Homo sapiens: one gene and its partners. The protein of the gene in region 1 purifies or fractionates together with the protein of each later gene. This does not show direct contact. Each region holds a gene or a part of one and is shown on either strand. Other genes may lie near its edges. The genes, in order: ZC2HC1B, DPH1 and POTEE.

Region 1 (4,195 bases):
AAAAGCTAAGTTTGTTTATTTCAGTTGTTCAAAATGAAACAAGATGTTGTGTTTAAGGATACTATACAAGTGGCTTTAAAAAAGAAGGAAATACTTAATGCAGGTTAAGTATCCCTTATCCAAAATGCTTGGGACCAGAAGTGTTTCAGATTTTTTTTCAGACTTTGGAACAAGATATCATGGGGATGGGACCCAAGTCTAAACACTTTATTTCGTATGTCACCTTACACACACAGCCTGAAAGTAACTTTTTGCAATATTTTAAATACTTTTGTGCATGAAACAAAGCTTGTATTAAGTACTTATACACGGTATTTTCTATTTGTTGTCTCACATTGGCACTCAACGTTTTTGGATTTTGGATTAGAGATGTTCAACTTCTATGACAGCTGGATACTATGCAAGAATTACCTGAGGGGAAAGAGTGAAATGAAATCAAGGATGGATTCACAGGGGACTTCTATGTTCTATTTCTTAACTTGAACAGTGGCCCTGTGTTTGCTTTAAATATTCTCCTGTAAGTTTCACAATTAAAATGCAAGGCCATTAGAATTTCTACCTTCTCTGCCCTTTAACTGGAACAAGACTGATAAAGCATACCAATGTCAACCCACATGAAGAAGTAACATAAAATTATTGAAAATGTAACAGTAAAGTTACAAGAGGTTAGAGTTCTTTCAACTGAGGTGACTTGATGACATCAAAATGGAGATGTAGATACAGGGCATCACAGGTAATAGACACAAGCGGTAACTGCACTTCAGACACTTAGACTTGTAAAGTAACAGACAGTCCTCAACTTATGATGGTTCAAGTTAACAATTTTTCCATGATGGTGAGAAAGCATATGTATTCAGTAGAAAGTGGTACAATCCTCTCGTGATGCTGGGCAGCAGTGGTGAGCCACTGCTCCCAGTCAGCCATGTGATCACGAGGGCAAATTGATAACTCTACAGCGTGCTGTATTGCCAGATGGTTTTGCACAACTGTGGGCTAATGGAAAGTATTCTGAGCAAGTTTAAGGTAGGCTAGGCTGAGCTATGATGTTCAGTAGGTTAGGTGTAGTAAATGCATTTTTGGCTTACCATGTTTTCAGCTTATGGTGGGCTTATCAGGGCATAATCCCACCACGAGTCAAGGAGCATCTGTGGTACTATGATATCCAAGTGGTTTTACACCATTCACGGGCAGTGCTTAAACAAAATAGGTGGGCCGGGTGTTGGCGGCTCATGCCTGTAATCCCAGCACTTTGGGAGGCCGAGGCGGGCGGATCATAAGGTCAAGAGTTTTGAGACCAGCCTGGCCAACATGGCGAAACCCTGTCTCTACTAAGAATACAAAAATTAGCTGGGCATGGTGGTGCACACCTGTAATCCCAGCTACTCGGGAGGCTGAGGCAGGGGAATCGCCTGAACCCGGGAGTTGGAGGTTGCAGTGAGATGAGATCGCACTACTGCGCTCCAGCTCGGGCGCCAGAGCAAGACCTGTCTTGGCAAAAAAAAAAAGTTTAAGATACAAATTCTTCAAGATTTTGCCCCCTGCCTGGATCTCTTAGGCCTTTCTCTCCTCCCTAACCCCAGTGATTCTAGGCCCTGCTATGGTTCTATGTTTAATTCTTTTCTGAAATCTTTCCCATCTATCCATTCATTCATACACTACTTTGTGACTGTATACTGAATGCCAGGCACCCTTCCAGACCTAAGGATAAAGCAATAAATAAAACACTGTGCCTTCAGGGTTTGTCCTGCGAGAGGAGACTGAAAAACAGTCCTCTGCGTCAACAGATGTTGTGGAGAACATAAACCAGGGAAGGAGGGTCAAGGATGCAGGGGAGGGATGCGTGCAGGATTTTTAAATACAAGCTCAGGGAATAGCCTATAGTGAAGGTTACAGCTGAGCACCAACCATGAGGAAGGTCTGTCTGCAGTGAAAGCACTTCTGGGGGAACAGCAAGTACCAAGATTCTAATTACAAGTGGTACTTACCACGATAGTATTGCCAGTTACATTTCGCTGCACCTATCCTGCCTCCTCAGACCATGTGGCTCCTGAAGGCAAAAACCCTCTGATCTCTTGGGCTCCCAACATTTAGCATGGAGCTTTTATGTTCAGTTCCCAATCATCATTTATAGATTTTTAGAGAACCAAGATATCAGAAAATTCATTTAAAGTATCATGAATTTGTTCTTCAGAATAAAATTAAAATATTTAAGTTTGGAGTATAACCTGCCTAAATCACAATATGCTTCATCAAGACTCATGGCCTAGTCTTTTTCTCTTAATTGCAAAATATATAATATATGGATTTAAACACAGTGAAGTTAGCACCTCATAACACAGAATTTGAGTAACATGACAAAGAAACATCCAATGCCTATTAAGACTCTTGCTGTTTTTGAGAATCTTCAGTTGAGACAGCTATCAAAATAAATGGCCAATCCTTTTAGTACTTACATTCTCAATATTGACATAAACCATCATCTGACCCTTTACTTCACAGGTTGGCATTTAAATACATTCTCTCCAGTATCCTACTTCTGCAATGACAAGCTCTTCAGTCAAGATTTTTTTCTAGCCAATGTTGGTAGAATACCTAATGCCATCAGTTTTGACAACTCTTTAAAAATCCTACAATACTTAGATTTAAACGGATCACACATGGTAGAACAAGCTAATACCTACCAGCTTTGGAAAAGCCATAAATGAATGATTACAGATGAAGGCATTTTCTAATAATTTAGATATCAAGTGCAGCTCACCTGCCAAAAATGGTTCTGCCCCAGCCATTCTGTTCCTAACTCAGAGCAACAGTGTTCACAGATTTTTACAGCCCAGTCCAGATAACATCATACTAGTCAAGAACATAAACCAGGACCACTAATCTGTTGCAAGAAGTCATAGTTTACCAAATAATCAACAATTGTGATGATGTCATTGCCTAAACCTTGAAAAAGTTTAAATCAGTTAAAACAAAAATCAACTCATCAAAAACAGGGAAAGTTTTCAACGATGTATTTTAATCAAGTATGAATGGTTCCAAGCATTAACTGATGTTGAAAAGACAAACTCCCCAGTTTAAACTGAAATAAATATTTCTGATTTTGAACTAGGGACTCACTGAAGCCAAATAAGTTTTCTTATTTCCTTGACTATTCTGTTTCCTGCCTTCACTGTTCCTAAATCCCAAAAGCAAGTCATCCAGTAATATAACAGGAAATATGAATCTTAAGAACCTTAATATTCAGTTTTGCCACACTTTTGAAACAGTCCTTTGTATACAGCAAGGGAAAACTTAGCTTCCTAACAGTGGAACCTTCTCAGAAAAACTCATCTTACACTAAACAGAATAAAGTCAGCATTTCAAAATTGAGTTTAACCAGGCCACTTTTCTATTTACAGCAAATTAAACCATGTAATTCCTGAAAAGGCGTGGAGAGGATTCAAAGAAATATTTGAAAACATCTGCAAAAAACAACTATGACAACCATACAAATAAATGAATACACCAATTCCATTCACGTTATGAAGATATTTTCCTTTAATTTATCAAACATTTCACATTCATGAAGTCATTTACTTCAGAGCAAATGTAAGCTTATAATATTAAAAATTAAAGTATTACAATATTTACAAGATGGTTGGCAGGGGACACTTACTAGTATAAAAATAATACAAATATTGTATTTTCCTCTTATCTGCCAGTAAAAATGGCAAACAGTTTTGTCTTTCTGAAGTTTCTAGTCAATAACCAAAGATGAGGAGCCCCTAATAAAGTGCCTTGCCCTGTATGCTCCACTGTCTATAGCTTTAGACCCTCAACATTCTTCTTCAAGTTCAGCAGCTCTTTTTCTTGCCTTCTTTTCTCCAGTTTAAATGCTAATTTGTTAGCTTTCTTCTCCACTCTTCGTTCCTGTTATAAGTACAAGAATATACTTGTATTATTCACATCTTTAAACTGATACAGACTGCTTTTACAAAATTCCCCTAATTTCCCCTCCACCAGCTCTTTGTAAATCTCACATTTGAAAAATATATTTTACCTTGCGCTCTTCTTTTATAGCTTGCTTTCTTGCTCTTTTATCTTCTTTGCTTTCATTTTTAGAACGTGGCTGAGTTGATACTTTAGGAAGATCACTGCCATTAATCATCTGTATTCTTTCAGTTTGCTTTGCTGTGAGTCCTTTCTTTGGTAAGAC
Region 2 (3,651 bases), on another chromosome or scaffold:
TCGGCCCAAGACTTCCGGGTGCTGTACGTCTTTGTGGACATCCGGATAGACACTACACACCTCCTGGACTCTCTCCGCCTCACCTTTCCCCCAGCCACTGCCCTTGCCCTGGTCAGCACCATTCAGTTTGTGTCGACCTTGCAGGTGGGTGGAACGAGGATCCTCGGCCTCCTGCAGGGTGGACAGCGGCCACTCTCCAGCTGTTGCGGGATCCCCAGGTGCTCCAGGCTGTTTCTCAGCCCTGGCTCTCCTGCCCCAGCCGCTGGCTTCACTTCCCTCGTCATTCCTACAGGCAGCCGCCCAGGAGCTGAAAGCCGAGTATCGTGTGAGTGTCCCACAGTGCAAGCCCCTGTCCCCTGGAGAGATCCTGGGCTGCACATCCCCCCGACTGTCCAAAGAGGTGGAGGCCGTTGTGTAAGTTAAAAATGGGGGCCAAGTAAGTCCTAGAGACATGCGTGTACCCTGGGAGGGAGCCTGAGGTTCATCATCCAGGAAAGAAACCAAATCTAATGCTCCTTACCTGTGAGCCCGAGGTCACACTGCAAGGTAGGGACCAAACAGGGAGCAGACCTCAGGTTTACTGTCGCTTTCTCCACTGCCCAGTCCATCATCCAGAAGGCTGTGCAGGGTGGGGGCAGGAATCAGAGGGCCTGATGGGGGTTGAGGGTGGGCTGGAAATGGTGGGAATATAATTGGAGAAGATGGATGGGCACGCCCAGGCTGCAGCCCCATTAATTTACCATCCGGACAGCTAACAAGCAGAAGCAGCGTGTCTCCTGCCGCCTAATTATTTTAGGTAATGGAAATGCTTAATGTTGTGTGAATGCAGCCAGCCTGAGAGCCGACGGCTCCCCCGACTGGGACTAGGGAAGGGAGTCCCGTTCCGTACTAATGGCAGGGAGGGAGGGTCGCTCCCTGACTCAGTCCCACCTCTGGGGCTTTGGAGGCTGTTTCCACAGGCCTGACACCCCTGTCCCTAGACAGGCCCACATCAGGGCCTTCCCCAGCCCAGATCTGGCAGCCCTGCTCCCCGAGCAGCACTGAGTGGCATTCCCCCTGTGCCCACGTCACTCAGTCTCTACCCTTGGGGTCTTCAAAGTGTATGTTGGAGGGAGGGACACCCTGAGTGTTAGCCATTCATCAGAATGAAGTGTGGTCTCCAAGAGGGAGAGAAGGAGCTGCCACAGGCAGGTTATCTTCCACGCTCTGTAATCTTCATGGGCTGGGAAGCTACTGTCAGGGACAGCATGTCTGGGGGCACACTTGGTACAGCCTGGGTTGAGCCTCAGACACACTGCTTCCTAGCTGTTTAATACTAGGCGAGTTTCTTAACATCCCTGAGCCTCAGTTGTTACCTTCTGTAAAACAGGTATACTATACGTATCTGGGAGGATTAGGAGATAGGACTGCGTGAACTAATTCACAGCAGGTACTTAGTCTATGCCTGGTACACAGAAGGCACAAGTCCAATAAACAGTAGCTGTTGGCCGGGCACAGTGGCTCACGCCTGTAATCTCAACACTTTGGGAGGCCAAGGCAGGAGAATTGCATATGTCCAGGAGTTTGAGACCAGCTTGGGGAATATAATGAAACCCTGTTCTCTCCAAAAAAAAAAAAAAAAAAAAAAAAAAGAATTAGCTGGGTACAGTGTCCATGCCTGTAGTCCCAGCTCCTCAGGAGGCTTAGGTGAGAGGATCGCTTGAGCCTGGGAGGTTGAGGCTGCAGCGAGCCATGACCGAGTCACTCAACCTGGGTGACAGAGTAAGACCCTGCCTCAAAAAAACAAAATGAAAATCCGGTAGCTTTTGTTATAACTCAGTAACTGGCCCCAAGAGCTAGTTTGGGCAGAAAGTAGCCATTGTATGCCCTGCAACCTCATGTACAGCATAGATCAGAGGTCCCCAACCCCTGGTCCCATGTCCTGTTAGGAAACCTGCCGCACAGTAGAAGGTGAGGGGTGGGCCAGCCAGCGTGACCACCTGAGCTCCGCCTCCTGTCAGATCCGCCGCGGCATTAGATTCTTGTAGGAGCTCAAACCCTATCGTGACCTGTACATGCGAGGGATCTAGGTTGCATGATCTTTATGAGATCCTAATGCCTGATGATCTGAGGTGAGACAGTTTCATCCTGAAACCATCCCCCAATCCCACCCGTGTCTTCCACAAAACCTGTTCCCAGTGCCAAAAATATTGGTTACTGCTGGCGTAGATGACTCCTTGAACACTACTGTCCACATCTGTATTGAGCTTGTGAAGGAGAATCTGTTCCCCAACTTCCAAATGAGGATCTCTAGAACCCCAGGTGGCCTCACCACGGCCGGCTGCTCCTTCACTCTTCCTCAGAAGCTTGGGGTGGGACGGTTCTTAGATTCTGCATTATGTAAATAGAGGGACCGTAGAGTCATCCAATTCAAACTCCTTATTTCACACGTGAGAAAACCAAGGCTCCAAGAGGTGAAGTGAAGGCTTGTCCCAGTTTACACAGAGGCACAGCACAGCCAGCTGTGAACTCAGTCCTCTGGACTTTTTTTTTTTTTTGAGACAGAGTCTTGTTCTGTCGCCCAGGCTGGAGTGCAGAGGTGCGATCTCGGCTCACTGCAGCCTCTGCCTCCCGGGTTCAAGTGATTATCCTGCTTCAGCCTCCCCAGTAGCTGGGACTACAGGTGCCCGCCACCACGCCCAGCTAAGTTTTTGTATTTTTAGTAGAGACAGGGTTTCACCGTGTTAGCCAGGATGGTCTTGATCTCCTGACCTCGTGATCCACCCGCCTCGGCCTCCCAAAGTGTTGGGATTACAGGCATGAGCCACTGCACCTGGCAGCCCTGTGGACTTCTTTTTTTTTTTTTTTCTTTTTGAGACGGAGTCTCACTCTGTCACCCAGGCTGGAGTGCAGTGGCGCGATCTCAGCTCACTGCAAGCTACGCCTCCCGGGTTCACGCCATTCTCCTGCCTCAGCCTCCCGAGTAGCTGGGACTACAGGCGCCCGTCACCACACCCAGCTAAGTTTTTGTATTTTTAGTAGAGACGGGGTTTCACTGTGTTAGCCAGGATGGTCTCGATCTCCTGACCTCATGATCCGCCCGCCTCGGTCTCCCAAAGTGCTGGGATTACAGGCGTGAGCCACCGCGCCCGGCCAGCCCTGTGGACTTCTAAGCCAGCGAGTGCCTCTTCTGCTGCCCTAAACCACACTTAGCCTCCTTTCCACCCCTGCAGGTATCTTGGAGATGGCCGCTTCCATCTGGAGTCTGTCATGATTGCCAACCCCAATGTCCCCGCTTACCGGTATGGGCTGGGCCGGGCTGGGCTGACCAGCTGGTGAGGGGTGAGATTCCCTGCCACTGAGGTCCTCAATTGGTTGCATCCCCATTTCCTGGCCACTAAGCCACCAGCCCTAAGGGTCTGAGGCACTTGGGCCCTGGATCTGGGCATTAGCCCCAGGGCTGCTGTTGCCTACCCGTCTCCTGGGGTTTACACGGAGATCTTAAAGCCGCCCACTCTTGTCTGCTCCAGCTGTGGGACAGGTCTTCCTAATGACAGTCCCCGCTCTTGCCTCTGTTCTTAATTACCTGCGTGGGGCCTAAAGGTTCAGGAGCCCACGGGGCTGAGTCAGGAGCTGTGTGCATAATACTGGTCCTGACAGTGGCTGCCACAG
Region 3 (3,651 bases), on another chromosome or scaffold:
TCTCATTAAAGTAGATAATGTGATTGTCCACTATTACGGAGTTGATCAATCACACCAAGGGCAGAAAAACCAATGGATGTTAAGACCTGACTTGGACCAACGATCCTTCTCTACAGACTCAAACTCTCAGCCAGTAGATGTCTGTTAGGATAATGCTTTATATTGATGTTCAATTCCAGCTGACATGGGAGACCAAAAGTCTACTTTTATTTTTTTTTAGTTTCCACAGAGAAGTAGCAAGCTGACATTCTGTAATTTTCGACATACATACTAACAATATATTTTGCACCGAACATGTTATTCAGGTCTAAGTCATCTCATAGACCATCTTACATGACTATTTTTGCAGCACAAATCACAATTTCAATATTTGGGTGGCACCCATTTTGCTTTGATTCACACTATTTCCTCAGAGCTAGTCAGCAAATAGTCAAATGACCTTCCAGTGACTGCACAAAATATGGAATGCTTCAAAGATCTGTGCTGCCTCCTTATGCAGAAGCCATGCTAACTTTCCCCGTATTGTTCCAATTTTAGGATATGTGCCGCCGAAGCAAGCACAAAGCCCTACTTTTACACATGATTAGTGATGCGTCATGGACAAGGCTTGGCTCTGTGAAGTCCAACTAACCTACTTGAGATTCTGAGAATTCTCTTCAATGGCTTCCTGTGAGCTAGAGTTTGAAAATATCTTAAAATCTTGAGCTAGAGATGGAAGTAGCTCCGACAATTTTCATTATCATGTAAATCAGATCACTCAAGGGGCCAACCACAGCTGGGAGCCACTGCTCAGGGCAAGGTTCATATGGGACTTTCTACTGGGTTCTATACAGGATATAAAGGTGCCTCACAGTACAGATCTGGTAGCAAAGAGGAAACAAACACTGACCTCTTTCTGCCACATTATTTGAACCCCTCTCACCCTTTAGAACAAGCCCACCTAACATCTGCCAGAGAAAAGACCAACAACAGCCTCAAAGGATCTCTTACCATGAAGGTCTCAGCTAATTCCTGGCTAAGATGTGGGTTCCACATTAGGTTCTGAATATGTGGGGAAGGGTCAATTTGGTCACTTTGTGTGCGGATAAAGTCAAGATGCCCAGCGGCCAGAGCAGGGGGCTGGTGCTCTGGGAACAATGGCTGAGCATATAAGCATAGGTATGGGAATTAAAAAACATCAAAGTCACTGTATGAATCGCCATGAAGACTTGAGGGATCTGAATCTACTGATTCATCTTAAGGCAGCAGGACCAGTTTGAGTGGCCACAAAGCAGCAACAAAATCAACGGAAACAACAGAATGATTGCAATGTCTTTTTTCCTCCTCCTTCTGACTTGATAAAAGGGACTGTCTTCCTTGGATTTAGTGAACTCCTTCGGTTCTTGAAAAATTCAAGGAGTATGTAGGACATAGTCCCCAGAAGACAGTACAAGACTTTCCGCTAAACTAGACATTTCAAGACCCAAATAACTAATCAGAAAAATTAAAGATGTGACACTATTTTTTATCCCTGCATAGGTGTTACACTTGGATCAAATGAACAATGCTGGGATCTCTAAGGATAAAGATCTTAAAAGTCCTGAGATAAAGAATCCCGCACCCATTGGTACTTCTAACTTGTCTTGCTTTTTGTCTGATTTCTGGCTGATGCAGGGGACTAACTCACTGCCACGCGAAAACTACCTGAACCAAACTATGACATCTCACCTGATATGTGAGATGCAACTGTTATAATTATTTTAAACCTCAATTCAGCATTAACTAGCCTTTTAATGTAAACACTTACACATGATGATGACTAGAAACAGCATACTCTCTGGCCGTCTGTCCAGATAGATCTTGAGAAGATACATCAATATTTTGCTCAAGTAGAAGGCTGACTATACTTGCTGATCCACAACATACAGCAAGTATGAGAGCAGTCCTAAAATGACAGAGATAGGAACTGTAATAAAGTTATTTTTAAAGCTAATTTGATATACTTTACCAATGTAACATCTTGCCTGTCTGTGCAGAATCAAACATTTACATGCACTAAAAGACATAAGCATCTTGAGTGCTCAAGTGTTCATCTTTGTAAAATGCCACCAAGGTTAAAAGGAAGGGACCAAAAAAAACCCTCTTATCTCAGTGGGGTATTGCATAGCAGAAGCTACTAATTTAAAGTCCTTTGATGGGCAAGAAACAATGTTAGGGCCACTTATCTGAGGTGGACAAAGATTTAAGTGAAGATTTTGTCACAGCTTCCCTAGACTGACATGCTGTAATAGAAAATCAGCTAGGGGGTAAGAGAAATAAGAGCTCTCTGCATGCTCAAAGCAGTAATAATAATGGTAAGAATAGTAGTCATAGGAGTTTCAGTTAATGGTGCCAATAACCATGTGCTAGGCACTGAATTAAATGCCACATGTATCTTTCTTACTTATGCACAGCCAACTTTGAAGGATATATTCTCCTACTTTTCATATATGACAACATATTTGGTGGTAAATAACGTCCCCAAGGTCACACACCTAGCAAGTAAGAAAGTTACTAATTAAACCCAGTCTTGTGTGAATCCAAAGCCTAGCTCTTTTCTCTTTATCACCCACGTACGGCTTGTCTTCATTAAAGGAAAAGTGTATCCACTTAAAACTATCTTCACTCCCTCTCTCCATACCAATTAAAAATAAAAACATCAAAACACACTGGAAAAACAAAAGGAAAAAAGCTGTTGAACCCACAGTATGTGGGAACAGCAATTAATTGTCATGTAGGGATAAGCTAACACTAATATTCTTCAAAGAAAGCAACTTAAAGCAAAGTCATTAAAAAGACAAAAGGATTTTCAACCCCTATTTATGTTTAATACAGCAGATTTAATGGAAAAGCATGTAAGACACAGGTTAAAAACTATTAGAAAGGGTTAAGAAGTTCAATACTGAGTCATAAAGTAAACTAAAAGTTAAAGTTCAAACTTCATAAAATTAATATGAAATCCTTTAAGCTAACATAAGATCATGTAACCAAAAATGTCACATAACAAATAACATCAGTCAATATAATAAGAGAAGATGAATCCTACTAAAACTGTTCTTTATGTTGCCCAGCCCAAGTAATTGTTTTTCTACCTAACTGATTTGTGTTGATACTGATCACTACATCCCAGTAAGTATACATTAATCTTATTAATTTAATATTTATGACTTGAGTGACTGCTGTCCATCTAGAACACACAGATTAAAAGAAAGAACTATACCTTCCATATCTATCCAGTGCATTTAAATTCGCTTTTTTCTTGATTAAAAATTTCACGACTTGCTGTTTTTGCTCATGTACACCAAGTAACAGTGGTGTGAGGCCATGCTGTAAAACAATATAAAGCAAAAACCTATGTAATTCAAAAAAGTACATATTCCTCAACCAAAGTGGAAACTTTATGTAAGATCTTATGGACTTACACGCATAGAAAGTAAATAAAATGTACTCGCTTCCTTCTCACTCTTCTGTGCTTTCCCACACGCTGCTCCTTCCCTTGGAAACACCCCTTCTCTGCCTCACCACAGTAACTCTAATCATCTCAAAAACTCACTTTAAACATTTACTGCTTCCAAGGCTCTTTGCTTCTAAACCAGCATTTGGCATGGTGTTATTGGATGATAATATTTTTCC

The links.
Region 2: the proteins of ZC2HC1B (region 1) and DPH1 purify together in Homo sapiens (affinity purification with mass spectrometry; one large-scale study listed by BioGRID and IntAct). This does not show direct contact.
Region 3: the proteins of ZC2HC1B (region 1) and POTEE purify together in Homo sapiens (affinity purification with mass spectrometry; one large-scale study listed by BioGRID and IntAct). This does not show direct contact.

Annotation. Positions count from the first base shown.
Region 1 is NC_000006.12:143,863,131-143,867,325, reverse strand, and holds the start of ZC2HC1B (zinc finger C2HC domain-containing protein 1B), read right to left. Parts: upstream 2,853-4,195; 5' UTR 2,787-2,852; coding exon 2,759-2,786; intron 1-2,758. Other genes in the region: protein LTV1 homolog, read right to left, coding at 3,799-3,909, 4,040-4,195.
Region 2 is NC_000017.11:2,036,543-2,040,193, forward strand, and holds part of DPH1 (2-(3-amino-3-carboxypropyl)histidine synthase subunit 1), read left to right. Parts: coding exon 1-144; intron 145-292; coding exon 293-414; exon of another isoform or gene 415-796; intron 797-2,856; exon of another isoform or gene 2,857-3,212; coding exon 3,213-3,281; intron 3,282-3,651. UniProt on the Homo sapiens protein: Catalyzes the first step of diphthamide biosynthesis, a post-translational modification of histidine which occurs in elongation factor 2.
Region 3 is NC_000002.12:131,226,517-131,230,167, reverse strand, and holds part of POTEE (POTE ankyrin domain family member E), read right to left. Parts: intron 3,346-3,651; coding exon 3,239-3,345; intron 1,925-3,238; coding exon 1,787-1,924; intron 1-1,786.